Homo sapiens: one gene and its partners. The protein of the gene in region 1 purifies or fractionates together with the protein of each later gene. This does not show direct contact. Each region holds a gene or a part of one and is shown in the gene's direction. Other genes may lie near its edges.

What was found.
Region 2: the proteins of PTH1R (region 1) and PCNX3 purify together in Homo sapiens (affinity purification with mass spectrometry; 2 studies listed by BioGRID and IntAct, with this or other methods). This does not show direct contact.
Region 3: the proteins of PTH1R (region 1) and ATP12A purify together in Homo sapiens (affinity purification with mass spectrometry; 2 studies listed by BioGRID and IntAct, with this or other methods). This does not show direct contact.
Region 4: the proteins of PTH1R (region 1) and ALG10 purify together in Homo sapiens (affinity purification with mass spectrometry; 2 studies listed by BioGRID and IntAct, with this or other methods). This does not show direct contact.

Annotation. Positions count from the first base shown.
Region 1 is NC_000003.12:46,873,474-46,880,962, forward strand, and holds the start of PTH1R (parathyroid hormone/parathyroid hormone-related peptide receptor precursor), read left to right. Parts: upstream 1-4,247; 5' UTR 4,248-4,370; intron 4,371-7,489.
Region 2 is NC_000011.10:65,625,587-65,633,135, forward strand, and holds part of PCNX3 (pecanex-like protein 3), read left to right. Parts: intron 1-40; coding exon of another isoform or gene 41-65; coding exon 66-158; intron 159-317; coding exon 318-468; intron 469-1,088; coding exon of another isoform or gene 1,089-1,114; exon of another isoform or gene 1,115-1,311; intron 1,312-1,317; coding exon 1,318-1,462; intron 1,463-1,818; coding exon 1,819-1,996; intron 1,997-3,008; coding exon 3,009-3,117; intron 3,118-3,232; coding exon 3,233-3,362; intron 3,363-3,770; coding exon 3,771-3,829; intron 3,830-3,933; coding exon 3,934-4,149; intron 4,150-4,764; coding exon 4,765-5,018; intron 5,019-7,549.
Region 3 is NC_000013.11:24,683,265-24,690,813, forward strand, and holds part of ATP12A (potassium-transporting ATPase alpha chain 2), read left to right. Parts: intron 1-2,049; coding exon 2,050-2,109; intron 2,110-5,054; coding exon 5,055-5,258; intron 5,259-5,997; coding exon 5,998-6,111; intron 6,112-7,073; coding exon 7,074-7,208; intron 7,209-7,339; coding exon 7,340-7,457; intron 7,458-7,549. UniProt on the Homo sapiens protein: The catalytic subunit of a H(+)/K(+) ATPase and/or Na(+)/K(+) ATPase pump which transports K(+) ions in exchange for Na(+) and/or H(+) ions across the apical membrane of epithelial cells.
Region 4 is NC_000012.12:34,017,657-34,025,934, forward strand, and holds the start of ALG10 (dol-P-Glc:Glc(2)Man(9)GlcNAc(2)-PP-Dol alpha-1,2-glucosyltransferase), read left to right. Parts: upstream 1-4,839; 5' UTR 4,840-4,943; coding exon 4,944-5,114; intron 5,115-5,120; exon of another isoform or gene 5,121-5,242; intron 5,243-6,305; coding exon 6,306-6,503; intron 6,504-8,206; coding exon 8,207-8,278. UniProt on the Homo sapiens protein: Dol-P-Glc:Glc(2)Man(9)GlcNAc(2)-PP-Dol alpha-1,2-glucosyltransferase that operates in the biosynthetic pathway of dolichol-linked oligosaccharides, the glycan precursors employed in protein asparagine (N)-glycosylation.

The DNA of each region.
Region 1 (7,489 bases):
GAGGTCATCACTTCCTTGCCCCCCTCCACCCCCAAGGAGCCCTGTGTGGTTACGCTTGATTGGAAAAATTGATGTGGGGCCGCTGAGTTTAAGGGCGGGGGTGGTCACCCTTCCATCTTGAACCCAGCTCTGCTCGTTGGGCCAAGAGTGGCTTCCAGAGCCAGCTGTGCTGAGAGAGGGTGCTGCTGTGAGGACAGGATGTACTGGATGGCCCTGAGTTCAGTGCTCCAGTCCCTTGCCTCCACAGCCCCCACACCAGCTCAGGAAAGGAGTGCAGTGGGACTGGGGGAAGCCTAGACCACTGACCTCCCCAAAAAGATCATGACTAGTCCGGGAGGCAGAGAGGCCCCAGAGATAGAGCAGAGGTCAGGGCAGGCAGGAGCTGGGTGTGTGACTTTGGGCAGAGGCCTGACCTCACTGGGCCAGACCAGCTGCCAGTGTCCCCTCCAGCTTCAGGGAGGCATCTGAGTTATGCCTAGCCACCTCCCGTTAAGCCCAGAACCTCCTCCACACTGGCGACCCACCTGTGCCCAGTGAGAGCCCTTCGGCCTCTTCCAAAGAGGCTCACCTCAGAGGGCACGGGTGTCGGAAGGCCTGGAGACTTGCTCTGGATGAGCGGGGTGACCTCTGGCATGCCATTGCCCTTCTCTGGATGTCGCTTTCCCATACACGGTTTTATAAACTTCCCTGAGTGCTTCCCCTCTCCAGCCAGTTCAGCCAATGTCCACGGTGCCTCTGGGCCAGGCTTGGTGCAGCCTGCAGGATGGCCAGGCAGACACAACCCTGATTCCAGCCCTAGAGACATTCCCAGTGTCCGCCAGCTCATTGCCTTGCCCCAGCCAGTGTCCCCTGAGGCATTTAGAGTGAGAGGAAACTGAGGCCCAGAGATTTGGCAAGGCACGACAAAGGACCACCCACATAGAGGGTTCCTCCAGGCCTAACAGGGCAGGAGTGTCAGGACTAGGGGTTCTCCACTCGAGGGCTCCCGGCCACAGCCCCCGGCAAGGACCCAGTGTCTGAGCTAACCCCCTCCCCACCACCTCCTCCTTCCTGGCCCCCTCCTCCCTTCAAACCGCAGGGCCCAGCCGGCCTCTGGAACGCGTGCCCGGGACCTCGGTGATATTTTGAGTTTAAGAAAACTTTGCAGTCGGCAGGAGCTCTTAAAGGTTATAAATAGCAGCAGCGGGAGCCCATGCAGGGAGAGGCGGAAACACGTGTCAAACACGCCTGGGAGGGGGTATTCCGAGGCACAGACCCCCCCCCACACACACAATAGGGACGCACTAGGCTTCTGGGGATTTTACAACCACTGGAGCGGGAAATCACACTCTACCCAGAAGGCGTCTGGGAAACAGGACCCGCTTTGGACCCCCAACCAGTGTCCCCAGTGGCTGGCCAGGTTGCCCGGGCATGTGGGGGCACTGATGAAAGGGGATCTGGTGGGGAGGCCTTTCTCCTACCCCACTCCCCGCCACCATGCCACCAGGGATCTCCCTCAGAGCTGCCCTTGGGAACAGCAGGGCTGGGGGTGGGTTTGGAGAGAGTCCACTCTAACCCGTCTGTGGCAGGGAGAACTGAAGACCTGAGTGGGGACAGAATTGTTACCAGGTCATGGGAAAGCTGGACAAGATTTGGACCCCCAAGCCACAGTTCTTCCCATTGAACACTGTTGCTGCCTCCCTTCCATTTCCAGGGACCACGGGACGGTGCTCTAACTCACCCAAAGAAAGCACAGAGATGGGCACAAAGGTAACAACACGCAACACTGAGGGATGCAGACCTGAGGGCCCCATCCCTCAGCATCCAATCCCAGTGCTTCCCCTTCCGGTGAAGACCTCCTGCTGAACAGATGAGGAACAGACCAGAGACTTGCCCTACTCCAGTGGGATGCAAGCCCATGCCCACACTGCCAGGGAGTGGACTGTCAACAACCCAAGGCCAGGTATGCAGCCTCAGCAAGGACATCAGCTCCGCTTTGGACACAGCAGTCTCAGCCTTGCCTTGAGGGTCATGCAATTTGAGGACATGCCCTCAGGAGCCTAGTCTGAGGAGACACCCTTCTGGGGCCTGATCTAAGAGAAATCAGTTTTGATGGCCTCGTGGCCATGGAAGGAACCCTTCAACCTCCACCACCTCCCTGGATTTCCCAACTGCTCCACAATGTGCATGGGGCAAGAACTGTTACGACGCTGCAAATACCTGGAAACTCAGGCGAGTCTCAGGCTCCCACCCACCATCCCACTTATGCCTCACTCATGCCCCACCTGCTGCCCACAGCTCCCAGCAGGTCTGGGGGCGGCATCCAGCCTTGGCATCCAGGCGTTCTGAACCTCAGGGAGCCCCAAAGGGTTTATGGGTCTCCCAATGAATGGGAGCCTGTTGAGCTCGGAGGGGGCCGGGCCCGAGTAAACATGGCTGGGTCTGAGCTGCCATTCTCCCCCTACCTCTTCCCCAGAACCCAGGACCAAAATACAACTTCCTGTCCCCGGAGCTGAGGGCCAGACTTGCCCCCCAGAGCCCTGGGCTGGGGCCCACAGGAGGAACGCAAACTGGCAGGCCCAAGGCTCGAGGAGAGAAAGGCCTTCAGGTTTTCAGACTCCCAGGTCTGCTTGCATCCAAGACCCAAGTGCCTGGGCACTTTACAGATCCCCTTTGAGCCTGAAACTGCCCAACTGTTAACAACAGATCAGGAAACTGAGGCCATGAGCAGGAAGGCGTCTGGCTCAGGGATCCACAGGTCAAAGCAGAAAAGGCCCCAGCCTCCTGCTTCCCTGGCCAGTGAGGATGGGGCCTGTGGGCAGGGTAGGGCAGTGCATGTGGACTCAGGGGAGGTAGAGGCTCTGGCAGTCAAGAGCCAGGGCAACAGGGAGGCTTGACAGAGCACAGGGGAACTCTCCCTCCTTTGGGCACAACTGCCCACTGACCTCCGCTGGCCTGGTCACAGAATAGCCTACGTGTCCCAGGATACCCCTTGGAGCAGTGCACTTCAGAGTAGCTGGGGCAGGAGTCCCATAAGTGCTGTTTGTCATAGTTTCACTATGTCCCCTGGCCAGTCCATTCTGCTCTTTGGTCCCGTTTCCTCCACCTGGAGGCCAGGTATCACCGAGCCTGCCTCCCTGACTAACTTGTGAAACAAAAAGTACTTTGGAAACTCTAATGAGTGGTACCCTCCCCAGGAGCCTGGAAGACCCAGGGAGGGGGGCCCTAGGAATGTGCCCAATGGCTGGGGGTGGTTGGGGCCAGCTGCCTCACATGCAGGGCACTGGGGGCTACAGCTGGAATGTGCTGAGTGGCAGCTGCCACGTGAATCATTATACCTCATCAGGCTGAGCCTAGGACTTCCAGACACAAACCAGCTCAGACTGGGCTCAGGCAGAAGGGCAGCCTCCAGCCGGGTCACAGGGCCTGGGGGTGAGGTTTCTGGGATCTTGCAGGGTCTCTGCCTCCCTGTCTGCCCACATCTTCATCCTGAGCAACCAGCCCTGGTTCTGAACACAGCTCGTTCTACAGACCCACAGAGAGAAGTCATCCTGTCCACAGCCCCCTGCCTTTGAGACCTGTGACAGCTTAAGCAGACCCTGGGCCTGGAAGGGCCTGGGAGGCAGATAGGGAGGGCTTCCTGGCTGACTCCTCACCAGGAGCCCACATTCCAGTGGGCAAGGAGTCAGATATGAGGTGGCTGTGGGGCTGTAGGGGTCAGGACACGGGCTGGAGTGGAATGACGGCCCCCTCCATCTCTTCCGTCTAGGAGCCACTGGGTACCCAGTGCTGGCAGATCAGGCTTTCTTGGGCCTCAGTTTTCCTGCCTGTGACACAGGCAAGAACCACCTCCAGCCCCCCTCTGATTTCTCTGGGTGCCTTAAACTTGAGTGAAGTCACTAGTAGGGGCTGTGTTCATACCTCGTGGCAGCCTGATATTCCTGAGATGTGGAAAGGACCAGAGGGTTAGACAGGGACACAGAGACTAAGAGAGAGGCATGGCAGGGCAAGGAGAGGACTATTGAGGCACACACACGTGTCTGGCAGCCTGAGTGGGCCCAGTTACCTGGCAGGCAGACCCATGGGTGCTGAGGGGAGGGCCCAGCCCTGGGCATCTGAACACCGGCACACTTGGATCTGCCTCTGTTGCCTCCTACTCCTGACTAGGAGCCTGGGACAAAGTCCTGGGCCAGTGTAGGGCTTGGTAAAAAATAATTAATTTTCTTTTCAAGTGGAAGCTCTGACTCAGGTCTTTTCTTGTCCCCAGCAGCACTATCCTTGCTTAGGCCTGAGCCACAGAAGCTGCTCAGGGACTATCCATGGCCTCCCCGTGGCCAACTTGAGTCTGCTCTGCAGCTTTAGGCCCGACTTGGAAGGCCCATGGGCTGCAGGTGAGTGGGGGCCAGGGGAGCCTAGGGGCCTGAGCACAGCTGGGAAGCCCAAGTCTGTGGTTTCCCTGGGGGTGAGTGTCTAAATACCTGGGCCGTGCTATGGGGCAGACAAGACATGCCCGCATGGAGACACATCTGTGGACCTGGTGTTATGACAGCAGGGGGCTTGTAACCATGAGGCCAGCAGGGACAGAAAGCCCATACCTCTAGCTCCTTGGGAGCCTTAGGAGTGCTCCCTGGTTGGGACAGAGCCTGCTGGCCCCAGGTGCCCCCATCGCCCCTCCCTTCACCTTCCTGAGAGGCAAGAAAGCCAGGCAGCCATGCTTCTGCTGCAAGGGAAGGGGGCTACCCAGCCAGCTGCCATGGGAGCCTCCAGCGACTCAGCTGGGTGTCAGGGGGTGTTTATGAGCAGCCGAAATGGCTGTAAAAGTGGCACCTCGCTTCACTTATGGCCTAGCCATCCCCTCCCCTACTGGGCTCTTGCCTCAAAAAGTTTCCAGAGGGGCCTAGAAGCCGAGAGAGGTCTGGGGTTGAGGGCTGGGTGGAGGCACAACCTGGGGTCAGAGTTCAGCCAGGGGCTAGAAATCAGACTGGGATAAGAACTCAGCCTGAGGCTGGGGCTCATGATGGAGATAGAGCTCAGTCTGGGATCAGGGCTAAGCTTGGATGCAGCCTGACTTTGGGGCTAGTGTTGGGATGAAGCACTGGGGAAATATAAGGACTCAGAAATAGATGTGAGCCATTAGTCCCAGAGAACCCCTGGTCTGGCCAAGGGGTTTTCTGAGGGAGGAAGGCCAGGCTGCATTGCTCAGACAGCTGAGCCTCTTGCCTTGCTTGTTGGTGTCTGATGCCCACCCTGGCCCCAGGGTCTGTGTACCTTGGCCAGAGCCCTACTCACGGTGGGATGGCTGCAGCAGAGGCCTGTCAGCCTGGGGCTGCCACACCAGCAGGGGTGGGGCCAGAGTCTGGCCCCTACTGCAGTTCTGAGATCCAGTGACCACCCTGGCTCCTCCTCCTAGGCCCCAGCCTGGGGATTAGAGACAGGGACTCACTCCTACTCCCCACCCCCAGCCAGGCCTTTTCAAACCCCATTGAAACTAACACTGACCTGACACTAACCAGAAACTGACTCTGAGCCCCTGGGGCGTGCTTGTCAAAAAGGGCAAGCTGACTCTGCCAGGTGCTTGGGTGCTACCAGTTAATGTGTGACACCCCCACCCTCATGGTAGCACTTTAACCAGAGGCCCGAGGGTGAGAGAGATGATCTGTGGCCCCACCCACAGCTGTGGAATGTCCAGCAGGGGACTCTGGGGTGAGGCACATGAGTTATGGCAGGAGGAATGCCCTTAAGGGACCCAGCACCCATCAGATTCCTCTCTGCAGCCCTCTCCACAGCCCACCCTCATCCTCCCAAGTACAAGTAGTATGTTTCCAAATCTCAAGTTTTCCCTGGTGTCAGATCTGAAAAGAACTCCTCCCCTCAGCCTCTAGTTTTATCTCTCAGTCCTTCCAATCCCTCCATTAATGTTCTTTTCTCATCACCAAGGGGGAAAGCAGGGTGGAAGATCAGTGGTCACAGAACCATAAAACTTAGAGACACTTAGAAACAGAGGCATAGGCCAGGTGCGGTGGTTCATGCCTGTAATCCCAGCACTTTGGGAGGCCGAGGCAGGAGGACTGCTTGAGCCCAAGAGTTGGAGACCAGTCTAGGCAACAAAGTGAGACCTCGTCTCTACAAAAAAAAAATTTTTTAATTACCCAGGTGTGGTAGCTCATGCCTGTGGTGCCAGCTACATGAGAGGCTGAGGTGAGAGGATTGCTTGAGCCCAGGAGGTCAAGGCTGCTGTGAGCCATGACCGTGCCACTGCACTCCAGCCTGGGTGACACAGCAAGACCCTGTCTGGGGAAAAAAAAAATGCTGCGTGTGGTGGCTCACGCTTGTAATCTCAACACTTTGGGAGGCCGAGACAGGATCACTTGAGGCCAGGAGTTTGAAACCAGCCTGGCCAACATGGAGAAACCCCATCTCCACTACAAATGCAAAAATTAGCCAGGCGTGGTGGTGCACAACTATAATGCCAGCTACTCAGGAGGCTGAGGCCAGAGAATTGCTTGAACCCGGGAGGTGGAGGTTGCAGTCAGCCGAGATCGCACCACTGCACTCCAGCCTGGCCAACAGCCCTGTCTCAAAAAAGAAAAGAAACAGAGGCATAATAAAGCTGAGACCATTAAAATATAACACTGAAGAACCACAAGTGTTCTTTAGGTGCCCATTCTGGCACCTGGGCCTCCGTCCCAAGGAGGCTACATACCATAGGAGGCAGCCCTGAAATCACAACCTCCCTCCCCAGTAACGGAGGATGTGGGCACACAAGGAGGGAGGGGAGTGTCCTTTACACCAGGCAGAAGAGTATGATCCTGGCAGAGGAAGCAGCAAGGACAAAGGCAGGAGAGTGGATGTGTGAAGAAGACCAGGAGTCTAGCAGACAGTTCCTGTTAGGGAGAGTCATTTTTGGAGGAAACTGTCTCAAATAGCACAGCCCTTGAACACCAGAAAAAGAAATGAGGGCAGTGGGCACAGAGAAGGGAGGCAGCCATAGAAATGCATGGGGAGGGCCAAGGCTGGTGGTTCATACCTGTAATCCCAGCACTTTGGGAGGCTGAGGCAGGTGGATCACTTGAGGTCAGGGGTTCGTGACCAGCCTGGTCAACATGGTGAAACCCCGTCTCTACCAAGAAATGCAAAAATTAGCCAGGTTGGTGGTACACACCTGTAGTCCCAGCTACTTGGGAGAATCACTTGAGCCTGGGAAGCGGAGGTTGCAGTGAGCAGAGATCATGCCACTGGACTCCAGCCTGGGTGACAAAGTGAGACTTTGTCTTGAAGAAGAAGAAGAAGGAGAAGGAGAAGAAAGAAGAAGAAAGTAGCAGCAGAAGAAATACATGGGGAATGCACCTGGGAGTGCAGTCTGGAAGCTGGATGGGCTTGAGCCAGCAGAAGGGTGGCTGCAGCTGGATCCTAGGCCTTAGGACTTGGGCTTGACAGATTTGCACTGAGGGTTGGAGGGCAGGTTTGCAGGCTCCGAGGAGCTCAATATCCACAGGCTGAGTCTTGAGAG
Region 2 (7,549 bases), on another chromosome or scaffold:
TGGGCTGCTGGGCAGCTGAGTGTCTCTCCTGGCCGGGCAGCTGAATGTCTCTCCTGGCCCTGCAGCGTGAGGTCTTGCACTCCGACCTGGTGATGTGTGTGGTGATCGCCGTGCTCACCTTCGCCATCAGCGCCAGCACCGTCTTTATTGCCCTGAAGGTTTGTGTGGCATGGGCCGCTGCTGCCTCTCGCTGTCTTGGCGGGAGCCTGCTCAATCTGAGTGCCGTGGGCAGCCCCTCCCCGGCCTGTGCCAGGTGGCCCTCTGTGGTCCCTTGGCCTGCTCCCATCAGCTGAGTCTCTGGCCTCTCCCTCCTGCAGTCGGTGCTGGGTTTCGTGTTGTACGCACTGGCTGGGGCCGTGGGCTTCTTCACACATTACCTGCTGCCACAACTCCGCAAACAGCTGCCCTGGTTCTGCCTGTCACAGCCCGTGCTGAAGCCGCTGGAGTACAGCCAGTATGAAGTGCGCGGTGAGTGCCCACCCCTGATGGCCAGGCCTGGGCAGTGGCTCGGGCTGCAGCCTGGCTGGTGGGAGCTGTGGTCCTCTCGGCTCAGGAGTGCCAGCAGGGGGCACTCGCTGCCCACACTACCCTTTCTGCTCCCTCCCTGCCCTCTGTGTCCGTGTTGCCCGGCTGCGCTCTCCACCGACTCTTCTCCTCGTGCCCTGCTGTGCCCTTCCCTTGCCTGTGTTGCCCTGGTCCTGCCCTCCTTCCTGTCTGTGAGAAGACGGAAGAATTAGAACCCCAGGGCCCTGAAGGGATCTCTTGTCCAGAATTAAACACTGATCACCAGTGGACCAGAGCTGCCTGGAGCACATCTTCACTGGGCTGCATAATGGTTTTTAAAAAATCCTGGAGCCTCTATTTTAGCATCTCGATTTGAGATATGAAGATCCATGTTTCTTGAGTTTTTCTTAAACGACAGAAGATTTTGCTTCCCAGACTAGCATCCCTCTGTGGCTACAACCAGCCTGAACCGAGGGGTCTGCCCTTTAGAAGGGCCCAGCTCACGGGCTCACTGTGCACTCAGGCCCTAGCCAGCCTGCTGTACGTAGGTGTTTGCGATTTCATCATTGGCCTTGTTTTAACAGACAGCAGAGCAGAGCACCTGCCATAAAGCAAGCCTCGATGTGCTAAGTGCCATGTGGAGCCCTTGCCCTGCTGGGGCTCGCTGCTCCCATTTGAGCTGCCACAGATCAGCCCCTCCCCCCAGGGTCTCCGAGGAGTCAGGACCGCACAGCCTGCCCTCCTAGGGAAGGACTTCCTCAGGGAAGGCAGGCATGTGGAAGCCAGGTGCAGAGTCCTGGCCTCTCCACACAGGTGCCGCCCAGGTGATGTGGTTTGAGAAGCTGTATGCTGGCCTGCAGTGCGTAGAGAAGTACCTCATCTACCCCGCCGTGGTGCTCAACGCCCTCACGGTGGACGCCCACACAGTCGTCAGCCACCCGGACAAGTACTGCTTCTAGTGAGGACCACCCCACCCTCAACGATCCCATCATCCGCTTTCCCTTTTGATCCGTGGGGAAACTGAGGCCTAGAGAGGGAATGAATCATGTCTAAGGTTGTTTAGCAAGCTAAAGCAGGACCCCAGCTCCTGACACGCCATCCCAGGAAGTGGTTGCTTCTTCAAAGGCAAATGTGTTCCCACCACTCCCTTTGGAAGAGCAGAGACTAAGAGTCACGGGCCCAAAAGAGCAGGGACCAGCCCAGCAGAGCAGAGGCCAGGGGTTGCTCTCCGGCCAGAGTAGGCGAGGGATGGGACACCTATACCCACTGCCCCGGTCCCCTACCAAGCACCCGATGCCTGCCCCTTGCCCACAGCTGCCGGGCGCTGCTGATGACCGTGGCTGGGCTGAAGCTGCTGCGCTCAGCCTTCTGCTGCCCCCCACAGCAGTACCTGACGTTGGCCTTCACCGTCCTGCTCTTCCACTTTGACTACCCGCGCCTCTCCCAGGGCTTTCTGCTTGACTACTTCCTCATGTCCCTGCTTTGCAGCAAGGTGAGTTGGTGGCTGTGGCCCAGACCCCAGGCTGTCCAATGGGAGCAGAGCCAACTTCTGCCTGGGTGGGAAGAGAATTTCCTGAGGGCCTGTGGCCACCGCTCTGTATCAGCCCCGTGGGCCTTTGCAGCAGCCTCTCAAGGAAGGGGTTACTTCCACCCTCTACAGAGAGGAAGCAGGCTGAAGGAGGTTGAGGGACTTGCCTCAGGCTTCCAGAGAATTGGTGGTCAGCCAGGATTTGAACCCAGGCCTGTCTGACCCCACGACCACCTCCTCAGAAATGGTTAGGGTAATCAGGACCTGGCCTTATCCTCTGGACGCAGACCTCTGAGTTCCACGCTCTTTTGCCACCCTGGATCCAGAGCAGTCCGAGCTGAGTTTCAGAAGCCCCTAGTGCCTGGGTGTGTATAGGTGCTCTGCCGGCTGTGGCATTGCCACGGCTTGGGGGGCTCTTTGAACTAAGGAACCATGCTCCTACACTCTACTGGAGGCCAGCAGTGGTACCTGGAACCCCAGGCAGGCCTGAGCCTTTTTCTTCCTCACGTGGGCATTCTGTTCTTGTTTTCTGGCCTGGCCCAGGATGGCGGTCATCCACACTGCGTACCCTCTGAGGGCAGGGCCTGTGGCTGTTCTCAATTTTCAGTACTATAGTCTAGCTTCAGCCTCACCAGTGACCTAGTGGCGTGACCTGAGGAAGTCATTTATCTTCTCTGTCTTCACTGAACCTCAACTTTCCCATCTGTGAAAAGGGGCCAGCAATAGGAATAAGAAGCTCACAGGGTACTTGTGTGAACTAAATGGCCACCGCCCCCTTTGAGCTCAGGCAGGGGTTGCTAATGGCATCAGGCGCCTTGAGCCATGTCCAGAGCACAAGGGCTGGCAGTGACCTTGAGTTTGGCCCCCGTGGGCCAAGCCAGTGCGATGACCCAAGCCTCTGAATGGGGCCTGGCATCCGGGGGCTTCCATGAGTGACCCTGCATGTCTTTTTTCTTCTCCCTGTTGGCCCTGCCAGCTGTGGGACTTGCTGTACAAGCTGCGTTTCGTGCTGACCTACATCGCGCCCTGGCAGATCACCTGGGGCTCGGCTTTCCACGCTTTTGCCCAGCCGTTTGCCGTGCCACGTATCCAGCCTGTGTTTGGGTGGGGGTGTGCAGGGAGGGCTGTGGCCTGGGGCAGTGGGGGGTGGTGGGGGGCTGGGAGGTCCTGTTGCCCGCCGCCTCCTTGACTGTGGCTCAGACTCGGCCATGCTGTTCGTCCAGGCCCTGCTCTCGGGGCTCTTCTCCACGCCTCTCAACCCACTGCTAGGCAGTGCCGTCTTCATCATGTCCTACGCTCGGCCCCTCAAGTTCTGGGAGCGCGACTACAAGTGAGTCTCACAGGAGGCGGGAGCATGCCCAGCAGGGCAGGAAGGGAGAGGTTTGGAGCCCAGGCTGGAGGCCACCCACAGAGGGGCCCACAGCAGGTATGGGAGGGCTTGGTCACAGTGGGGACACATGAGGCGGCAGATCCAATGCAGGGAGAGCCTGCACCAGGCCAAGGCTTCAGGCTCACAGCTTGGGGATAGTGGGGTCTGGGGATGAGCTTAGCCTCCCAGCTTCTTGGCTGTGTGTCCTGTGTGAGTCCCTTCATGTACCTGAGCCTCAGTCTCCTCATCTGCCTGCATAACGGGGCTGTCCTGGATGGCGTTGACCTTGTGGCACAGGGAGAGCATGAGCAGGGTGCACCCTCTCTTCACCTTCTTGGCCAACCGCCTTGTTGCACTCTCTCTGAACAGCACTAAACGTGTGGATCATTCCAACACCCGCCTGGTCACACAGCTGGACAGGAACCCTGGTGTGTACCCAGCCATCCAAGGGGCTTTAGGGCAGGGCCTCCCTGGGGAGGGAGCCTCGCTAACTTGTCACTTTGTCCATTTGCCCGTCTGTTCTGGGTCTTAGGCGCTGATGACAACAACCTCAACTCCATCTTCTATGAGCACTTGACACGTTCGCTGCAGCACACACTGTGTGGGGACCTGGTGCTGGGCCGCTGGGGCAACTATGGCCCTGGTGACTGCTTCGTCCTGGCCTCTGACTACCTCAACGCCCTGGTGCACCTCATCGAGGTTGGCAATGGCCTCGTCACCTTCCAGCTGCGTGGCCTTGAGTTCCGGGGTGAGCCGCAGGACCAGGCTCGGGTGGGCAGGCACAGCTCGGGCCTGATGTGGGAGCTGTGTTCAATAGCACGTGCGAAGGAGGTCCAGTCCAGCTCTGTCCAGGCTGGCGGGTGGCCTTGGGCAAGGCACTCCTCCTCCCTGGGCCTGCGTTTCCCAGTCTGAGCAATGAGGTGGCAGGGTCTCTTGGCCAAGCCCTGTGCCTGCCCCAACTTTAGGTCCCAGTGACTCTACAGGTCACTGCAGTGAGGGCCTGGGCCTGGAGGTCTGAGTTCTCACACCCAGCCTGCTCTGTGGTCTCAGGCTTGGCCCATGGGTTGGGCGCCATGAGTGAGCCAGCTCCTTCCTCTCAGGAAGACGTGTGTGTTGGATGCCCGAGAGTGCAGAGGGGCCAGACCGTGTCCCTGCTCCCTCCCGCCCTGCCCTTGGATGCTGGGAGTTGGGAGGAGAAAGGCAGGCGCTCTTTCGTGAATCTTGGCATCCAATAAGGTTGACTCCCCTGGCGTCCAAGGGGGTGAATGGCAGCAGGCCTCTGATGCCATGTTGGTCACTCTCCCAGGACAGGGCAGGTAGGGATTGTTCTAGCAGCCCCTGACTGCACACCCCTCCTCCACAGGCACTTACTGCCAGCAGCGCGAGGTGGAGGCTATCACCGAGGGTGTGGAGGAGGACGAGGGCTGTTGCTGCTGTGAACCTGGCCACCTGCCACGGGTCCTGTCCTTCAATGCTGCCTTTGGGCAGCGCTGGCTGGCTTGGGAGGTAACAGCCAGCAAGTACGTGCTGGAGGGCTATAGCATTAGTGACAATAATGCTGCCTCCATGCTGCAGGTTTTCGACCTCCGCAAGATCCTCATCACCTACTATGTCAAGGTACGGTGGGCAGGTGTGGCCGGGCAGCAGGGCCCTTGCGGGTGAGCGCTCGCTGACCAGAGGCCCCAGTACCCCCTTTCTGGGTTGTTGGGAGCCTGTTTTGTCCAAGGGAAGCTGAGGCCTCAGAGAGTTTAAGTGTCCCCTGAGGTGCCACTGCCAGACCTCAGGTTGCAGGGGCCTCTGTGCCCATATGGCTCTGATAGGTGCCCAGGCAAGGAAGGCTTGCTTTGGGCAGTGAGTATGGGGCAGGTGGGCAGTTGCAGAGGCCAGCCTTTGAAACCACCAGCCCCTGCCCCCAGCTCACCCAGCACAGAGCAGTGGTAGAGCTAACAGTTGTCACGTTAACGATCATCATGGGAGCAGCTGCTTGAGCAGTAACATTTACCACGGGTGGGCGCTATGCTGGGCATCTCTCCTGAGCTGGGTGGAGTCCCCCACCCTTTGAGAGGGGCCCTGCTATCTCACAGATGTGGAAGTTGGCTTGCAGAGGTTCCAGAATCTGAAGAAAATGGCCAAGCCAGGCCTTGAACCCAGGCTGGCCCTGAGCCACAGAGCTTTCCTGCCTTAGCCTGGGGGCTCTGAGCCAGGCCTGAGGATCTTGAGACCTCTTGGGGGTGGGAGGGGGTTGGTGAGGCAATGTGGGGTACATAAGGAGCCCTGGAATGGGGGTTCTGATCAGCCTGGAATGTTTCTTCCCTGTGTCCCTCAGCTTACCCCTTGAGAAGTGGGGGTTATTGCAGTTCTCTGAGATGGCAGAAATGTTGAGGCTTGGCCAAGCGTGGTGGCTCATGCCTGTAATCCCAGCACTTTGGGAGGCCAAGGCAGGTGGATCACTTGAGGTCAAGAGTTTGAGACTAGCCTGGCCAATGTGGCGAAACCCCATCTCTACTAAAAATACAAAATAATTAGCCGGGTGTGATGGCGGGCACCTGTAGTCCCAGCTACTTGGGACGCTGAGACAGGAGAATCACTTGAACCTGGGAGGCAGAGGTTGCAGCCAGCCGAGATCGTGCTACTGCACTCCAGCCTGGGCAACAGAGCAAGACTGTCTCAAAAAAAAAAAAGGAATTTTGAGGCTTGTGGTGCTCAGAATAAGCGTACTGGGAGTGGGGTGGCCTGCTGATCACAGTGCAGGCTCCCACGTGCCTTCTTAGGATCTACCCTGGTGCTCCCTATGTTGGGCTCGGTGGGTGGCCTACTGGGGCCCAGGTGAGCCTGCCACCTAGGTTCTCTCTGGAGTAGTTTCACGAGGCCCTGGCTGTCCTTCTCCAAAGGAAATCCTGTCCACACCACATATCAGAGGAGCTGTCATTTGTCATTCCTTCTGCCCTCCCAGCCACTCCTAGGCAAGGATTTGTGAGACCACCCCCCTTTCATCAAGAAGGAGGCTGTGTCTAGAGAGGGACATTCCCAGTCCCAGGTCACCGAGAGGTCATGGCCTGGTCCACCTTCCGGTCCCATCTTGAGAGAGGTGCCCTTGCCCAGGTTGCCCTGCTGTGCCTGCTAGGCTAGGGCCAGCAGGTTGAGATGCACCTGGCCAGGTCTCTTGTCCCATGGGGAAGCTGACTGGCCACATCTAAGGCTGCCTCAAAGGCTGGGCAGAATTTGAGTCTGGAGGAAGTGCTTGGAGGACCTGGGGTGGCTCCGCTGAGGATGTGGACTGAGGGTGAAGCTTGGAAGGACAAGTCAGGGCTGCCAGGGGTGGGGCGGGGGGAGGCGGGTGTGCTGGGGAGCCTGGTGCATCTGGGGAAGTGTCCCAGCTGCAGGGATAGGTCCTTTCCAGCCTTCGAGGTTGGCCAGTCGAGGCGGAGCCCCTCCCGTTAGCTTTGCCCTTCCCGTGGGAGTTACTGGGCTCTCAGACCTGCTTCTGCAGCTGGGAAGGGCTACAAGAGCAGGAAAAGGCACCGTGGCTTGAGGCTGCACGGAGTCTGGGCAGTGCTTCCCGGGAAGTACCTTGGGCAGAGCCCAGCTCGCAGTGAGCGCTCACAGGCGGAGCGGCTGCTGGTATTGCCCCCCGTCTTCATTTTCTTCCTAAGATGACCGTGAGTGTTGTGTCAGAGAAAAGGATGGCACTGGTGAAGGTTAACCAAGCACCTGATATGTGCCAGGCCAGCTCCTCTCCCGGTCCCTGAAGCTTTTCTTTTTTTTATTTTTTTTTGAAACAAGGTCTCATTCTGTCACCCAGGCTGGAGTGCAGTGGTGCCATCTGGGTTCACTGCAGTGTCCACCTCCCAGGTTCAAGTAATCCTCCTACCTCAGCCTCCCAGGTAGCTGGGACTACAGGCATGCACCACCATGCCTGGCTAATTTTTGTATTTTTTGTAGAGATGGGGTTTCGCCATGTTGTCCAGGCTGGTCTTGAACTCCTGGGTTCAAGCGATCCTCCCACCTCCACCTCCCGAAGTTCTGGGATTACAGGTGTGAGCCACCCTGTCTGGCTGAAGCTTTTCTTTTCTGGGTCTTTTTAGCAGCTCTGGTGGTGCCTGGATTGTAGAGGCGAGCTATGGGCAAGAAAGTCAGTCTGGAGCGGG
Region 3 (7,549 bases), on another chromosome or scaffold:
GCCACTTTAATAATAAAACTGCCTTGGGTCTGAAATGTGACAGATTTTATCTTGGGAACACCGAAGGGGAAACTTCTACACGGAGCTTGAGATGGGCTGGATTGTCCCCACCGTCCTTGGCAGATCTTAAAGCTCTGTGACTCCTGAGGGGAGTCTCTTTTGTGCTAGAGAGCCATTTGTTAAGTATTCAGAAACTTGGCAGGCTGACTGACATCCTGTTAGCAGCTTCAAACTTGGTTCTAGTGAGAAATCAGCAAACTCTACAAATCCGAGCTTTGTATTGATCGTTCCTGGAGAGTTTGTTAAACATTTAACAGTATACCACTGGGCATTTGTCCGTATCTATCATGAGAGACATTTAAGAACGCTTCCCTGAAACTGGACTGACCTCAATTCAAATCCCAGTGTAACTGAAGTTCAGTTTCCTATTTTGAAAAACATAAGATTTTTTTTTCTACCTCTTAAGGGTTACTAGGAAGATTAAATGAGATAAAACAGGGAAAAGACAGCACAGCACCAGACGATAGATCGTTCTTATTATTTCCCATTATCTCTAGCATTTAAGATTGAAGACATATCTGTTTTTCCCTTGACATTACAAGGGTCCTGTAATTTTCAGCAGCATATTGAATGCTTTTGCCTCCCAACCTTTCTTGGCAAATTAGTGCCTAATGACAACTGAAGTATCCCGGCCTTTGAATGAAAGGGCCAGGCAGTGACCCGAGGGGTGGGTGGGGTGCTGCCCTGTGCTAGTCCAGTGCTGGCCAGCAGAGGGCACCCCAGATAACCACCACCACCTCGTCCCACCCCTCCCCCATGCTCTCATCCCCCAGCCCAGGAAGTCTGAGGTCCCATGCATGCAAACAATGGCTCGGATCATCCACTACTTGTATCTGCCCAAAACTTAGTGGGTTGTGCTGTGCTCTGTGCAGAACACAGCCTTAATCTTCTGAATCCCCAGCAATATCACACTCAATCAGTATTAGTAGAAGGGATGAAGGAGCAAAACAGAATCTGGCTGAGAAGAGGGCTAGAAGCAAGATAATAATGATAATAATGAATTCTGCTTTATTGGAAGGCCTAGTCTCTTACTGCAACATGGAACTATTTTTTGCATATACTTAAGAAAAGAGATGATGTGAGCACCAGTCAACAGTATCAATCTTTGTTTCAGACAATCAGGGTTTAAAAAATCCTGAGTGCTGGACTTTCTAGGGGGAGTGAGGAAGACTTACCCTAGGTTTTCTGCTACAGGAAGAGACTTCTTGTCCTTTAGCCCAGTGGTTCTCAAAGGGAGAGGAGAAGAGGATTCCCCCACCCCTCTCCCAGGGGAAAAATGGAAACATTTTTGGTTACCACAACTGAGGGGAGGATGTTAGTGGGTGGAGCCCACAACAAAGAATTATTCTCCCAGAATGGCAGCAGGGCCACGGGTGAGAAACCCTGCTGTAGTCTAATGATTCTGTAGCAGAATTCACAAGTGGCAGCCACAATGCTGTGGGTTTATTCAGCAGAACTTTTCCCTGCAGGGTTTCTCTGCCCAGTGAGCTCCCTGAGCGTCACAGCTTGAGTGAGGGAAGCTGCTTTTCCCTGCCAGAGCCCACACAGCGAAGGAGGAGGAGTTGTGCCAGCCCAGGAAGCGGTTCTAGTGTGGTTTTGCCATCAGCCCCAGCCAATCCCAGGGTTCAGGCCTGAGGGAAGCCTCCAGCTCACTGGCACCTGGAAGATGAGGGTGCCAGAACCTGTATGCCCTGGAGTTCAGATTGAAGCGAGGTGCATGGCTTTGTTCAGAAAAGCTGCAGGCAGCTTCTGGGTAGTAACAGCAAGTGCAGGATTGTGCCGACTCAGGGACAGTCACTCCTGAGGCAGTGCCATCCTTCGCTGGGCAGCTGCCTGGCACAGGGGTTCTTTCTCTCCTGTCCCCCACACTCCTCGATCCCCTCCCATCCTCAGGGCTGCTACTCCCAGCTTCCATGGCTGGTCAAAGCTTGGGGCTTGAGTCTTTTGGAATTATCTAATTCACTCTGTTCTTCCTTTCATGGACTTCAGGATGACCACAAACTCAGCAATAGGGAATTGGAAGAGAAATATGGCACAGACATCATTATGGTGAGTCGTGGGAACCAGGGATTTGGAAGAGAAGCCTCCCAACTCTACAGAGGGAAGGCTGTGTGTGGCGGGGGGCTGTGTGGAAGAGTAGCGGCACCTTTAGGAGGAGGGGCCCCTGCAGCGCCTTTGAGACTGCAGTTATTTGCATCTGGACACAGTTCAAGTCAACAGAAAAACCTACTGTGGGGCTCACACTGGCCTGGCAGTGAGAGGGACCAAGAGGGACAGATGACCCCTGGCCTCAAGGAGAAAGTGGCCGGGTAGGGGAGGCAAATGTGTATGGAAGTGTCCTGAGATTCACTCTATCCCCCTGGGATGGCTACAAGAAGTAGAAACGCTATGCTGGGACAAAGGTGGATTCTGATGGAAGGGGCCAGAGCCAGCTCTCGGGCTGCTGCCATGTTTGCGCTGGGACTCAAAATGCTTCGGATTTAAGCTGGTGGGGGACCCCAGGGCCAGTAAGCACAGAGCCTGCTTGGAGAGAATCTGGGCTTGCCGGAAGCTAGTATGTGTGGAGAGGGGACAGGTGCAGCAGGAATGAAGCCAGGAAGGTCATCTGGGTGAAGCTGTCAAAGTATTCACATTAAACTAATGAGTAGGAGCTGTCTTAGAGGCAGAAGGGACATGGTTTCCACACATGGAGGTGCTTTCATTGGTTTTCAAAAGGCAGTTCTCATAGAAGATTCTTTTTTTAAAGTGAGAAATGGAAGGGTCTAGAAGAATGGAACAACAGCCCAGGACTGTGAAATGAGGATCTGAAATAATGTCGAAAGACATTACAGGGGCCAGACGTGGTGGCTCAGGCCTGTAATCCCAGCACTTTGGGAGACTGAGGTGGGCAGATCACCTGAGGTCGGGAGTTTGAGACCAGCCTGACCAACATAGTGAAACCCCGTTTCTACTAAAAATACAAACAATTGGCAGGGCGTGGTGGCACATGCCTGTAATCTCAGCTACTCAGGAGGCTGAGGCAGGAGAATCTCTGAAACCCAGGAGGCAGAGGTTGCGGTGAGCCAAGATCATGCCATTGCACTCCAGCCTGGGCAACAAGAGCAAAACTCCATCTCAAAAAAAAAAAAAAAAAGGGCCGGGCGTGGTGGCTCACGCCTGTAATCCCAGCACTTTAGGAGGCCAAGACGGGCGGATCACGAGGTCAGGAGATCGAGACCATCCTGGCTAACACGGTGAAACCCCGTCTCTACTAAAAATACAAAAATTAGTCGGGCACGGTGGCGGGCGCCTGTAGTCCCAGCTACTCGGGAGGCTGAGGCAGGAGAATGGCGTGAACCTGGGAGGCGGAGCTTGCAGTGAGCGGAGATCGCGCCACTGCCCTCCAGCCTGGGCGACAGAGCGAGACTCTGTCGAAAGAAAAGAAGGAAAGAAAGAAAGAAGGAAGGAAGGAAGGAAAGAAAGAAAGAAATTGCAGAGAGACACAACCAGCAGGACTTGCGGGGATTTTTATTGAGCCCCTCATCTCGCTAGTCATGTCACAGCAGCAGGAGGAGGAGAGCCGGTCGGGTGATGGGCTGGGGTGGGGGCAGGGAGGTGAGAGCAGGGAAGGCAGGAGGGTGGAGGCGATGATGAACTTATTGTGAGTTATACCAGGAGAAGTCTCTCCGGAACACCCCTGAGGAAATGTTCCACAGTTATTCAGAAAGATGAGTCTGGGGTTCTGGAAAAGGAATTGGAGTGGAGGGAGATGGGATCGAGGTGGTGAGCCTGAATCTAGCCATTCAACAGATATTTGAATCACTACCACAGAAAAAGCATGAGACCCGGGAGAGAACACAAAAATGACCAAGACTGGCCTGTCATGGTGGCTTAGGTCTGTAATCATAGCACTTTGGGAGGCCAAGGTGGGCAGATCACTTGAGGTCAGGAGTTCGAAACCAGCCTGGCCAACGTGGTGAAACCCTGTCTCTACTAAAAATATTTTAAAAATTAGCCAAGTGTGGTGGCCGCTGCCTGTAATCCCAGCTATTTGGGAGGCTGAGGCAGGAGAATCGCTTGAACCCAGGAGGAGGAGGTTGCAGTGAGACGAGATCGCACCAGTGCACTCCAGCTTGGGCAACAGAGCGAGACTCTGTCTCAAAAAAAAAAGACCAAGACAGAGTCCTGCCCTTTAAGTAGCTTACAACATAATTAGGGAGAAGAGGTATCTACAGACTTGTCCACCAAAGATCGTCTGTGGGGGAAATTCCTGTGAACATGTAGGGTTTCAAAGGTGAGGGTGCCTCACGGATGGCAGGCCCCCCAGGGCAGGGGCTGCTCACATGGGCTCAGGGCTTGGGTAGGATTTATGCCTGTCAAGATGAATGAGAACTTAGGCTGGATGTGTAGAAAGGTGGAAAAGGAGCAGGCGTAAGGATGGAAACTAAAGCCACATGCTCTCTGTGCAGGATTCCAGAAGCTTCCCTATTTCCTGGGGAGTTACTGCATTGCCCTTAGCCCTGGTGAGCAGCTTCTTCATTCCAAGTCCTCCTTCATCAAATTAGTCCTCTCACCGGATAAACCTCTAAGAAACTAAAACCCCTTAGCAGAGCAGAGTGCAGTGGCTCTGGACCCAGTCACCACGTTGAACCTGGTCGCTACCATTGACAGGCCAGGTCCCTTCGACAGGTTACGTAATTTCTCTGTGCCTCAAATTCCACCTCTGCGAATGACGAGAGGGAGGAATAATGGCCCCTGCCTCAAGGGTTATTTTAAAGACTAAATGAGTGAATATACAGAGCACAGTGCCTGGCTGGTATTAAGCATTACATAGTCTTTCAAAAAAGCTGGGCAGCTGGAGAAGTGAGGCACGGTCTGCTTTTCTCGGGACCTTCTTTGGCCACGTTAATGCCTCACCCCAAGCTGCAAAAATATGCAGCCCAACCCCTGAGGGAGGAGGAATGTCTAATTCGTATTTGTTTTGGTTGTGCATGTGCTTTGTTTGGCTTTCCCAGGGTCTCTCCAGCACCAGAGCTGCCGAGCTCCTGGCCCGGGATGGGCCCAACTCCCTCACCCCTCCCAAGCAGACGCCTGAGATCGTCAAGTTCCTCAAGCAGATGGTGGGGGGGTTCTCTATCCTCCTGTGGGTGGGCGCCTTTCTCTGTTGGATTGCATATGGGATTCAGTACTCCAGCGACAAGTCTGCATCCCTGAACAACGTAAGGCTCTGGGGTGTCCCCTCCTGGTTTTGCTGGCAGAGCCATCCAGTGAGGCCTTGGGGGCACAGCTGGGGGCTGAATGCCACTGCCTAGGTGTGGGAAAGTCAGGCATTTTCCCAGCTGTAAAACAGAAATTCTATCTGGCTTTCTGATCTTCTAGAGGCAGTGTGGGCATGAAGAGGGATACACAAAACACCTTGAATTTTTAAGGGGGAGAAAATCTGCATCCATGTGAAGTAGTTTGGGGTTCTGTCTCCCCCAAGCTAACCTCTTCCTTTAACACGGAGAGCAGCTGTGCCTGCCGAGACATGAGTACCAAATCCACAAAACTGAATTGGCCAACGTGATGCCAAGAGACAGAAGCCAGAGGCAACAAGCTACATGTCATAGGATTGGATTGACATGAAATGTGCAGAACAGGCACATCCTTGGAAGCAGGAACCAGATCGGTGATGCCAGGGCATGGGACAGGAGCAGGGAGTGACGGCAGAGGGGCCGGAGGGATCTCCAGGCAGGATGGAGATGCTCTGAGGCTGCGGTGGAGGGTGGTGTCATGGCTCTGTAAACTTAAAAAAAAAAATCAATAAGTTGCGCACTTAACATGGGCGAATTCCATGGCCTGTAAATTATACCAGGGCGTAACTGCCAGCATTGCATCCTCCCGTGGAGAGCTCTAGCCCCAGGGCCCGGCTGCTTCCCACTGCTGGTTTCTCTGACTGACGCCCTCCTTCTCACCCAGGTGTACTTGGGCTGTGTGCTTGGTCTGGTGGTCATTTTAACGGGGATCTTTGCTTATTACCAAGAGGCAAAAAGCACCAACATCATGTCCAGCTTCAATAAGATGATCCCTCAGGTGAGTGGCAGCCACCTATCCTCTGGCCTCTGGTGACTCCCAGGTGAGGAAGCCTCAGCTGGGAGGGGCACAGGGCCCTGAGGGCTACGGGTTTCCACTTCCTTCCCTGTCGGAGCAATCGTGGGCGAATTAACCCATCTGTCAGAACCCCAGTTCCTCACAGGATTTTGATGGTCAAATGAGGCACCACCCAGGGCAGTGCTGGTTAGCCCAAGGCATCTTCTGTTCCTGCTCCTCAGTGTTTGTGGATAGTCCTTCTGGGTTCTGGAAGGGACCTGTGGAAGGTCAGGGAGTGTTCTTTCACTGGCAGCCAAGGAGACCAGCCTGCAATTGTTTATCTGTGACCATTTTTGCTCCTGAGCCCCAGAATGCATTTGGTGGGGAAGCCCAGTGCTCCCTTCTTCCCCAAAAACCCCTGTCAGGTGTCCACACTGTCTCTGGCCCAGAGAACTGTGGGCTGGAGAGATTCTGGGTGGAAAAGACGCCTCCTGCCAAGCTTGAAGCAGGAGATCACCTCGTTAAAATTTCCCTGACACTCGCAAGATTATCAGCCTCCCCAGCCCCACCTTCAGTGTTCTGCCCAGACGCCCAGCCAGGATTGCTCACCCTTAGTGGTCTCCTTTTCTAGGAGGCCCAGGGCTCTGGCTTGGCCAGATCTGGCCAACAGCGACTCTTCTGTTCCAAGAACTCTCCATAAGCTCAAGAAAAAGTAGTTCTTAGAGTCTTCAGGCCTCGGGTGAAGCAGTCTTCTGTTTCATTCTTGCTGTTCTGACAGCCTCATGCTCCAGCAGCAATGCTGTGTCCACAGGGCCAGGTGCAGGCTGCATAACAGCATGGACTCAACAGTGAGAGTGATCAGGAAGTTCCAAGGCCTCTGTCCTGGGGTTCGGTGCGGCACAGACTTGGGGGAGGGCCGGTGTCCTTCCAGGGTCTGAGGCATCTGTCATGGTTTTTTTCTGCAGCAAGCTCTCGTCATCCGAGATTCCGAGAAGAAGACCATCCCTTCAGAGCAGCTGGTGGTGGGGGACATTGTGGAGGTCAAAGGAGGAGACCAGATCCCTGCAGACATCAGGGTGCTGTCTTCTCAGGGGTGTCGGGTAAGCGGCAAGGGGTATCCACCCCAAGGACCATGTTCCAAACCTGCTGGCTCTGGGGTCTTTCCCAGCATCAGTATAAGAGGCAGGGAATGAGGTACCCAGCTGTGAACCACCTTCAACATTTCTTCTAGGTGGATAACTCATCTCTCACGGGGGAGTCTGAGCCCCAGCCCCGCTCCTCTGAGTTTACCCATGAAAACCCCCTGGAAACAAAGAACATCTGCTTCTATTCCACAACGTGTCTGGAAGGTAAAAGGCCTCTGGCTCTCAGCCCACATGTCCACCTGTGTCCTTTCTCCCTCCTGGGCTCTCAGGTCTGTCCTTTGCCACACCCCGTTACA
Region 4 (8,278 bases), on another chromosome or scaffold:
ATATTTCACAAAACCTCCCTCTTTTCAGTAATAACAATTGTATCATAAATCTCACTCTAACGTCTGAAATTTTAAAATTAGTAAGATCATATTACTGCGTCTCTTAAACTGTGAAATTATTTAAGAATTAAAGTTAATTCAATGTCTTCTCTTCTAACTTTTTACTTTGGTTGATTTAATAGTACTGTAATTTCATCAGTATAATAGCCCAGTTCATTTAATAATCAATTTATGATTCTCTTTCTTTTCCTAGAATGTTTCTTATCTAACTGGCAGCAATAGCTGTAGGACTATGGTGTTTCAGCTGCTTATTTTAGCAAAAAGCAAAGTTCCCCTTCACATAGTCTTTTGAAAGAAAAGACATCTGTCTGAATATAAATATATGTAACTAAAAGCCATTAAATTGTAAGTATTTAAGTTCCTCTTCTTCAGCTGCTGAGGAGGAACATCGTCTATATGTTCATTGGCAATGAACTTTGTTTCTTGGTAGGGTGAAGCCTGGAGATGAAGAATCAGAGAAGCCAGGGGACAAAGCAGCATGAGTGATCAGAAAAGCAAGGGAAATGTAGAGGACAGCAGTATTCTCAAACTTTCAGGTCCATCAGGTCCACTTGGTAATCTAAGGGAATCATAATTGATTACAAAATGAATGTTAAAACACGTATTACTTGGCTCCCTCTGCTATCAGATTTGTTTTCCGGTAGGTCTAAGGCAAGACTTGATTATTTGCACTTCTAACAGGTTCCCAGGTGATACTAATGCTGTGGTACTTTAGGAACCACTGTTATAAAAAAATATTTAGGAAGTTTTGCTTTGGGTTGTATGGTATATCTTTCTAAATGACCAAGTGTATTAGTCCTTTTTCACACTGCTATAAAGAACTGCTGAAGACTGGGTAATTTATAAAGGAAAGAGGTTTAACTGACTCACAGTTCAGCATGGCTGGGGAGGCCTAGGAAACTTACAATCATGGCGGAAGGCGAAGGGGAAGCAAGGCACCTTCTTTACAAGATGGCAGGAAGGAGAATGAATGCAGGAGGAACTATCAAACACTTACAATACCATCAGATGAGAACGCACTCAGTATCATGACAACAGCACCGGGGAAACTGCCCCAAGGATTCAATTACCTCCATCTGGTCTCTCTGTTGACACATGGGGATCATGGAGATTATGGGGATTATAATTCAAGGTGAGATTTTGGGTGGGGACATAGCCAAACCATATCACCAACCATTCTCTTTGTCTGATACTACAGAATTTACCTGGCCTGAGACTTTCAAGGGTAAAACTGGAAAGTCTGCCACAAACCAGAAAGATTTGTTCTATGAAAGTTATCAGAATCAAAATGGGGCCACTTGCATAAAAACCCTGAAAAATGGAGCTAAGGAAGACCAGAAAGGGAGGGTTTATATGCGTGTATGCCTGACAACAGGAACTACGACAAAAGACTGCACAAACCACAACTTTGCACAAAGGCCACCACAATCTCACAAAAAATTACTTCTGTGAGGACATTTGCCCAGCAACTGCCTGTCCAACCTCAAACTGGTGCCACCCTTTCTACCAGTCCTTGTAACCAAGGATAATTGTCTCAAAGCAATTTATGTAACCCTCTTCATTTTTCTTTTAAAATCCCTTGTCTTCTTTTACCTCCCTATGTTCATTGTATTCTAACTGTAATGCTCAATCCCAAATAAATATTATTGTTTTTTAGAAGGGTCTCTCCGTGTGTGTGTTACTTAGGTTTAACCAGTCCCCTATACAATGTCTTCAAGACATTTTCAGTAGAGCTAAAATACTTGCTAATGCTTTTGTACTAAAATGTGTGTGTTTTTTTTAATTGATTCATTAATTTTAAAATATAGATTTTAAATTGATATGTTAAGATTGACCTCAAGGGTATAGTTGCATTTTAGAGCTTATCATCTGTGATTTTTGGCCCAGGGTGCAGTACTCTGCTGTAGCTAGAACGAATTGTCACCTAGAAAGGAGTAAACCGTCACTCTGATTAGCAAGTGGCCAATGTTTTCATTCAGCAACAAGTGAAAAGGGGTGCAATAAGAGGCAGGGTGTTTCTTGGACTAATACTTCAAAGTTATTACAGTTACAGCCTTTGGGGAAATTCACTGTTCAGATATGGCTGTTTCAAACAGTTAAGTATATGCAATGTTATGCGAGTTCATCAAATTAGGAATGTCTTAATTGATCAAAGTAAGCTAGGTTATACAGGAGAAATAAAGTCAAAATCTTAATGGCTTATAAACAAAAAAGATTTATTTCTTGCTAAAACAACCTATCCTTAGAACCCCAACAGAAATTGCCCATTTTTCTGCCATAACTTACTTATCATAATTCAAGTAGCACAAATAAATAGTTGATGTGCAATGACAATGGGATTGCTCATCCTAATGACTCTTTTTCACAAACATCTATGGAAAATGGCAGTTGGAATTCTGAATGGAAAATGTAAGTTGAAATTAATGCTGATCTAGTTTTAAATGATAGGTCTAATAATATGTAATCTATTTCATTAAAACCCCAGAGGTAGCTATTTTAATAGGTCTTGATTTAGGAGCAGAGCTTTGGAAAGCATTTCAAGATTATCAAAGATGTTGTAATCTAAGAGTAGAAAAGTGACAACAGCTTCATCGATTTGCAGATAGTAAAAATAACTAACAAACGAGTGAAGTACTCTACAAAGAACTCTACTGGGCCCATGGAGCTTCTTAGCATTCTCAGGTAATATGTTTTACATCAATCGTTTCCAAATATGAAGATTATTATTCAGTGATTTGAGATGGCTCTCTACAATCTAGTTTTTCACAATGTTCCCCCAGCAGATTTTGATGTAATTAGTCTGTAACATGAACATTTTTTTAAAAGATGAAACTTGTATTTCAACTTGGTGTATGGAAACAGAGGAGAGTGGAATGTAAATGTAAAGTTATTGGGACTAGTGAAACATTCAGTTCAGTATACATTGTAGATTATTTTAACCTATAAGGCTATGAAGTTATTTTATTACTCTTGGTCTGATTTTCTAATTCCTACACTTGGTTCTGACACTAATTTTTTATGTAATTTTAGGTAAATCATTCATTTTTTTAAAACCAACTTCTTTTATAACATGAAGTCAAGTAGATTATTAATAAAGATCCCTACCCATTCTAGAACCCCATATTTCCTTGAAACTTTCCATTTTATGTAAAGGGATGTGTGCAGCATGTATAGGAGTCAAATGTTTAACATAAACTATTGGTGGCAATTGTTATGAAGAAAAATGGAGAGCATAAATGTCTAGTCTTGTTCTACTCCCTTTAAAAACGACCCACTATTTCTAGGGTGGGTCAGTAAGCTGCAGAGTATATATAACACGATTTAGCAGGTCAACAGGTCAGGAGCTAATTACTTGTAGATCACATCAACCTCTTGAAGACTGAATCATCTGGAGATGTGTTACAAGTGACTTAAACAGATAAGTACAGCATGGACTCAACAATAAAATGGGAGATAATGGTTAAAACAAAGCTAAGCATCACATCAGAGTAGGATCCTCACATGACTTTATTCCAGTAATGTAAATGTTCCCATCCCAGCCCTCATTCACCACTACTTCCTCTTATCATTGAGGAAACAGGCAGAGACAGAATGGAAAGGCAGTCAGCTTAATTTAAGAAACTTTCTTAAGTTTAGAAATACTGAATTAGTTTTAACCCAGAAAAAGAGCTCAATTGAGAACTCTGAGGTTTGCAACCTTAAATCCCGCCTAAATTCTGATATATTCCTGCCAAAGGCAACCTGATTGAGGTTACCTGAGAAATAGTTTTTCTACAAAACATGGCCAACCATGCTCAAGACAAAATTACAACACATAATTTATCTTCGGCATTCTTCAAATTATTTACCTCATCTCCTGCCCCCAGCACCTAATCCCAGAATACAGGAATTTGATGATGTCTACACAGCCTATAAAAGTCCACAAATTTAAGTGCCTACTGTGTGAAAGCCATTTTGGGGACTACAAACATAAAGGATGTATAATGCCACCCACTAAGATGTTCACGCTTATGATTTAGTAGGAAAAACAGAAGGCTGCCTTACAGATATTAACAACCAAATTTACAGGCACACCTAAAACATCCCGAATTCTAAAATATATATGTATTTTCCAAATCCTACAGGGTAATATGACTATGAAAGTGCACTAGGAATGTCAATTTAACTAAATCCTCTGAGAGCATCCACATTTTGAAAGAGTTCTCTTTTAACCTAAACAAACAAACGAACAAACACTCCTCTCACTGAAGTTCATTCGGCATTGACGGGTCTCTGGTTCTTCAAGTTTTCATCTAAAACTCTCAGTCTTTGCTATCACAACCAACGCACCCTTCCTACACTCCAAAGTTGATGGAATGAAATGTCTTGGAATTGAGGGTTTAATTAATTCGGATCACTGGAGAGAAATAACAGAAATAACGGGGGAAAAAATGTGTCCATTTTAGGGCTTGGAATTGGAAACGTGGGGAAACGTCGCCACCTTCTGGTAAGTGATGGAAGTGAGCAGGAAAAAAGATCCAAGCTAAGAAGCGGCTTTTTTTTTTTTTTTTTTTTTTTTTTTTTTCTAAGCAGCAAGCCACGCACCTCCCGCGCTGGCGAAATCCGAGACCCGCCCCTTCCGGAAGTTTTGACACTTTGTGCGCCCCGGGCAATGCGATTGAGAGGGTAATCATCCGGTCCGTTATCTAAACCCGTCACTCCGGGAAACAGCGACCCGATCTTTCCGGATCCGCGCTCTCCCAGCATCCTTTGCCTTCCGGTATGTGGCCCCGTCTGGCTAGTCCCGCCTAGCGCGCCCATTTCGAGCCCAAGTTTCCAGCTCGGGTTTCCAGGCTCAGAATTTTCCAGGAGTAGGTTCTTGGGCAGTGGCTGTGGGAGCTGGAATGGCGCAGCTGGAAGGTTACTATTTCTCGGCCGCCTTGAGCTGTACCTTTTTAGTATCCTGCCTCCTCTTCTCCGCCTTCAGCCGGGCGTTGCGAGAGCCCTACATGGACGAGATCTTCCACCTGCCTCAGGCGCAGCGCTACTGTGAGGGCCATTTCTCCCTTTCCCAGGTGGGGTCCCCAACCTGTCCCCACCCCAGGAGAGGCCTGAGAGGTCCCAGCGTCCCCACGTCCTCCCATCCTTAGACTTCACTCGTCCTGTTCCACCCCCTCAAGCCTCAGAACATGAAAGAAACTGGGTATAGTCTTTTGTTCCTGTCTCTGAGATCTGTGAAATATTTATTAAATGAATGAATAAACAGCAGATCTGTCCTCCAGGAAGGAGTGATCTGGGAGAATACTCAACGGGGAACTGAGCCCTCCTCTTGGCAGCTGACGATATCGATCCCACTTTGTCTTTCCTTGTTTTAGGATTAAAGGCATTCGGGTGCTCCTTGGAAATACCAGAAAACTTTCCTTTAGCTCACCTGTCAAGCACCTCACTGTGCATTTTAGGGGTGGGATAGGGTGGACTGGAGGGATCTTCAGCTACCAAAAAGTGACAATTTATAATCACAAATTCCTTCCCTGGGTATTTTTAGTGAACTGTTAACTGGATAAACTGGCAACCAGTCAAGTCACATCATTTTTGAGTATATATTTGACTGTGCAAGTATGTACATATAAATATCAAAATAAGCATCCCCTGCTTCTCTGGTGACACAATATAGGGTACTGGCTAGAAATATAAAGTCTGTTTTAGAGAAAGATCTGATCTTAAATCTTGGTGCTGTGATTTACTAGTTTTGTGATCTTGGAGATGTTCTGAGTTTCAGAAATTCAGGTTACTCATCTGCAAAATGACAATAATCTTTACTATAGGGCATATTGTAACGTTAATACAGAGGGTTTGGCAACAATTTCTGTCTCAGTTTATGTTAGCTGTCATCATGGAGCCTGTGGTCCAAATGTTTTCCTAAACTTAAGAGTCCCAAACAATGTTTCCATGCTTTTAAAAACTGGAACATTTGCAGTTTATTTATCAAAATAAAGGCTTTTAAAGAACATTTCTTGGAAAATAGAAATAGATTTTAAGTTGTTGTTGTTTATTGGTTGCTGCTACCTGAACCATCACTAAGCTGGTCCGGGGGCAAAAAATAAGAAAAACGAATCCTGTTCTGCCAAGGACTTACTTAATCTTGTCATAGAATAACTTCTCAAAATTTCTGATTGTTGCTGGAGATGAGACTTGGGCTTGACATATTTGTGCCTGTCTTGTTCCTATTACCTCTTGCTTTTACTTCATTTTCTTTCATTTTAAAGTGGGATCCCATGATTACTACATTACCTGGCTTGTACCTGGTGTCAATTGGAGTGATCAAACCTGCCATTTGGATCTTTGGATGGTCTGAACATGTTGTCTGCTCCATTGGGATGCTCAGATTTGTTAATCTTCTCTTCAGTGTTGGCAACTTCTATTTACTATATTTGCTTTTCTGCAAGGTACAACCCAGAAACAAGGTATGTTTCAAAATACTTAATTACAAGTTTATGTGTAGTCAGGTCCACAATTACAATGAATTAGTTTTATGAGATTTGGTGAAAAATGTCTTTAACACTTTGTAACTTTGTATTTTTGTATATTATGTAAAGGTAAATTTAAATCCTCCATCTCCATTTTAGAATAAATTCGTATTTAAATACTTGAATAACTTATTTGTAAAATCTGAAGTAAATATTTGTTAAGTGAGTCAAACCAGTTCAATAAATACTTACTGAACTTATTCCATGTGCTAGGGACTGGGACTACAGAGATAAATGAGGCAGTCTTTTTCTTGTAAAACGTATATATTCATTAGGGAAAACAGACTTTACCTGAGGACTTTTGATGTGATAACAGTGCAGGCCCTGGAGGTAGATTGCCTGGGTTAGAATTCTCTCCCTGCCACTTAACCAGTTTTGTTACCATGGACAGGTTAACCCTTAGTGGCTCCATGTCTTCATGTATTAAATAAGAATAACAATAGAATCTGCCTTATAGAACTGTTATAAAGGAACAAAGAAACTTAATAAATGGAAGATGCTTCGAACAGTGCCAGAGATATAGTAAGGGTTCAGTAAATATTAACTCTAATAATTATTTTTAACCTTAAGAGATGATTTCAGTAGTGTCAGTTATGATAGAGTGGTAAACATAAGATGCTATGAGGATACAGAGAAGGAGCAGGGGAACACTTACTGCTTTTCTGGGAGGGAGGGGAGTATGTGGCATTTGGTAAGTCCTCACAGAGAAGATGGTACCAGAGCTGAGTCTTGATGAACGGATAGGGCTGTGTAGGGTGGGGAATTAATCCTGGGGAGACAAACAACATAAGAAAAGGAAGAAAGGCATTGAACAACGAGTTGCAGGGAATTGGTCTTGGAATTACAGGATTAAAAAGTAGAGGGATGTAAGGCTAGAGAAGTAGGTCATGAATGCCCTTATGTGTCACAGAGAGGACTTTGAACTTTAGCATGTAATGTAAAGACCTTAATTTTAATCAAGGAAATGGCATGGTCTGATTTGGTGATTTAGATTAAGTGGAGTATACAATTCAAGAACATAAGAACACTTTCAAATTCTGAAACAGCATGTCAGAAAGGCCAAAAGAAGATATATAACTTTAGACAGGCTCACTTTTCAGAAAAATACCTGTTATTTCATCATGAAAATTTCATCTTGAAAAAGTAAGTCTGGGTATGGTAGTATACCATATGCATGTTTATATTCTCCCTTGTGTAGAGTTATGAAGGATTTCCTTAAAGGAAAGTGGTTCATTATGGCTAAGTGAATCCTTACTGAAGGCACTAAAACATAAGCTCAGGGAAATGGAGCCAGCACCGTGTCCTATTTATCTCCATAGTCCACATAGAACTTAGTTAGTATCTTGCACTCAATAACTCCTTAACTAATCATTGCCTGATTCCAATTGTGTTAAGCTATAGAAGATTTGGCATACACATGGTCTCCAAACTGATAGGTATACATAAAAAGTACCAGGAAGTGTTCTTATAAATGTATATTGTGTTTTTGCAAAGCCAGAGATAAGATTAATATTGATTAATTTTATTTAAAGAAGGTTTGAGTAGTTGAGTAGTTTTTAAATAAATTTCTTCATTAGGTAAGCAGAAATAGCATTTTTTGTCATGAAAATAATTTTATCTGTGTTTCTTCTTCCTCCAAGGCTGCCTCAAGTATCCAGAGAGTCTTGTCAACATTAACACTAGCAGTATTTCCAACACTTTATTTTTTTAAC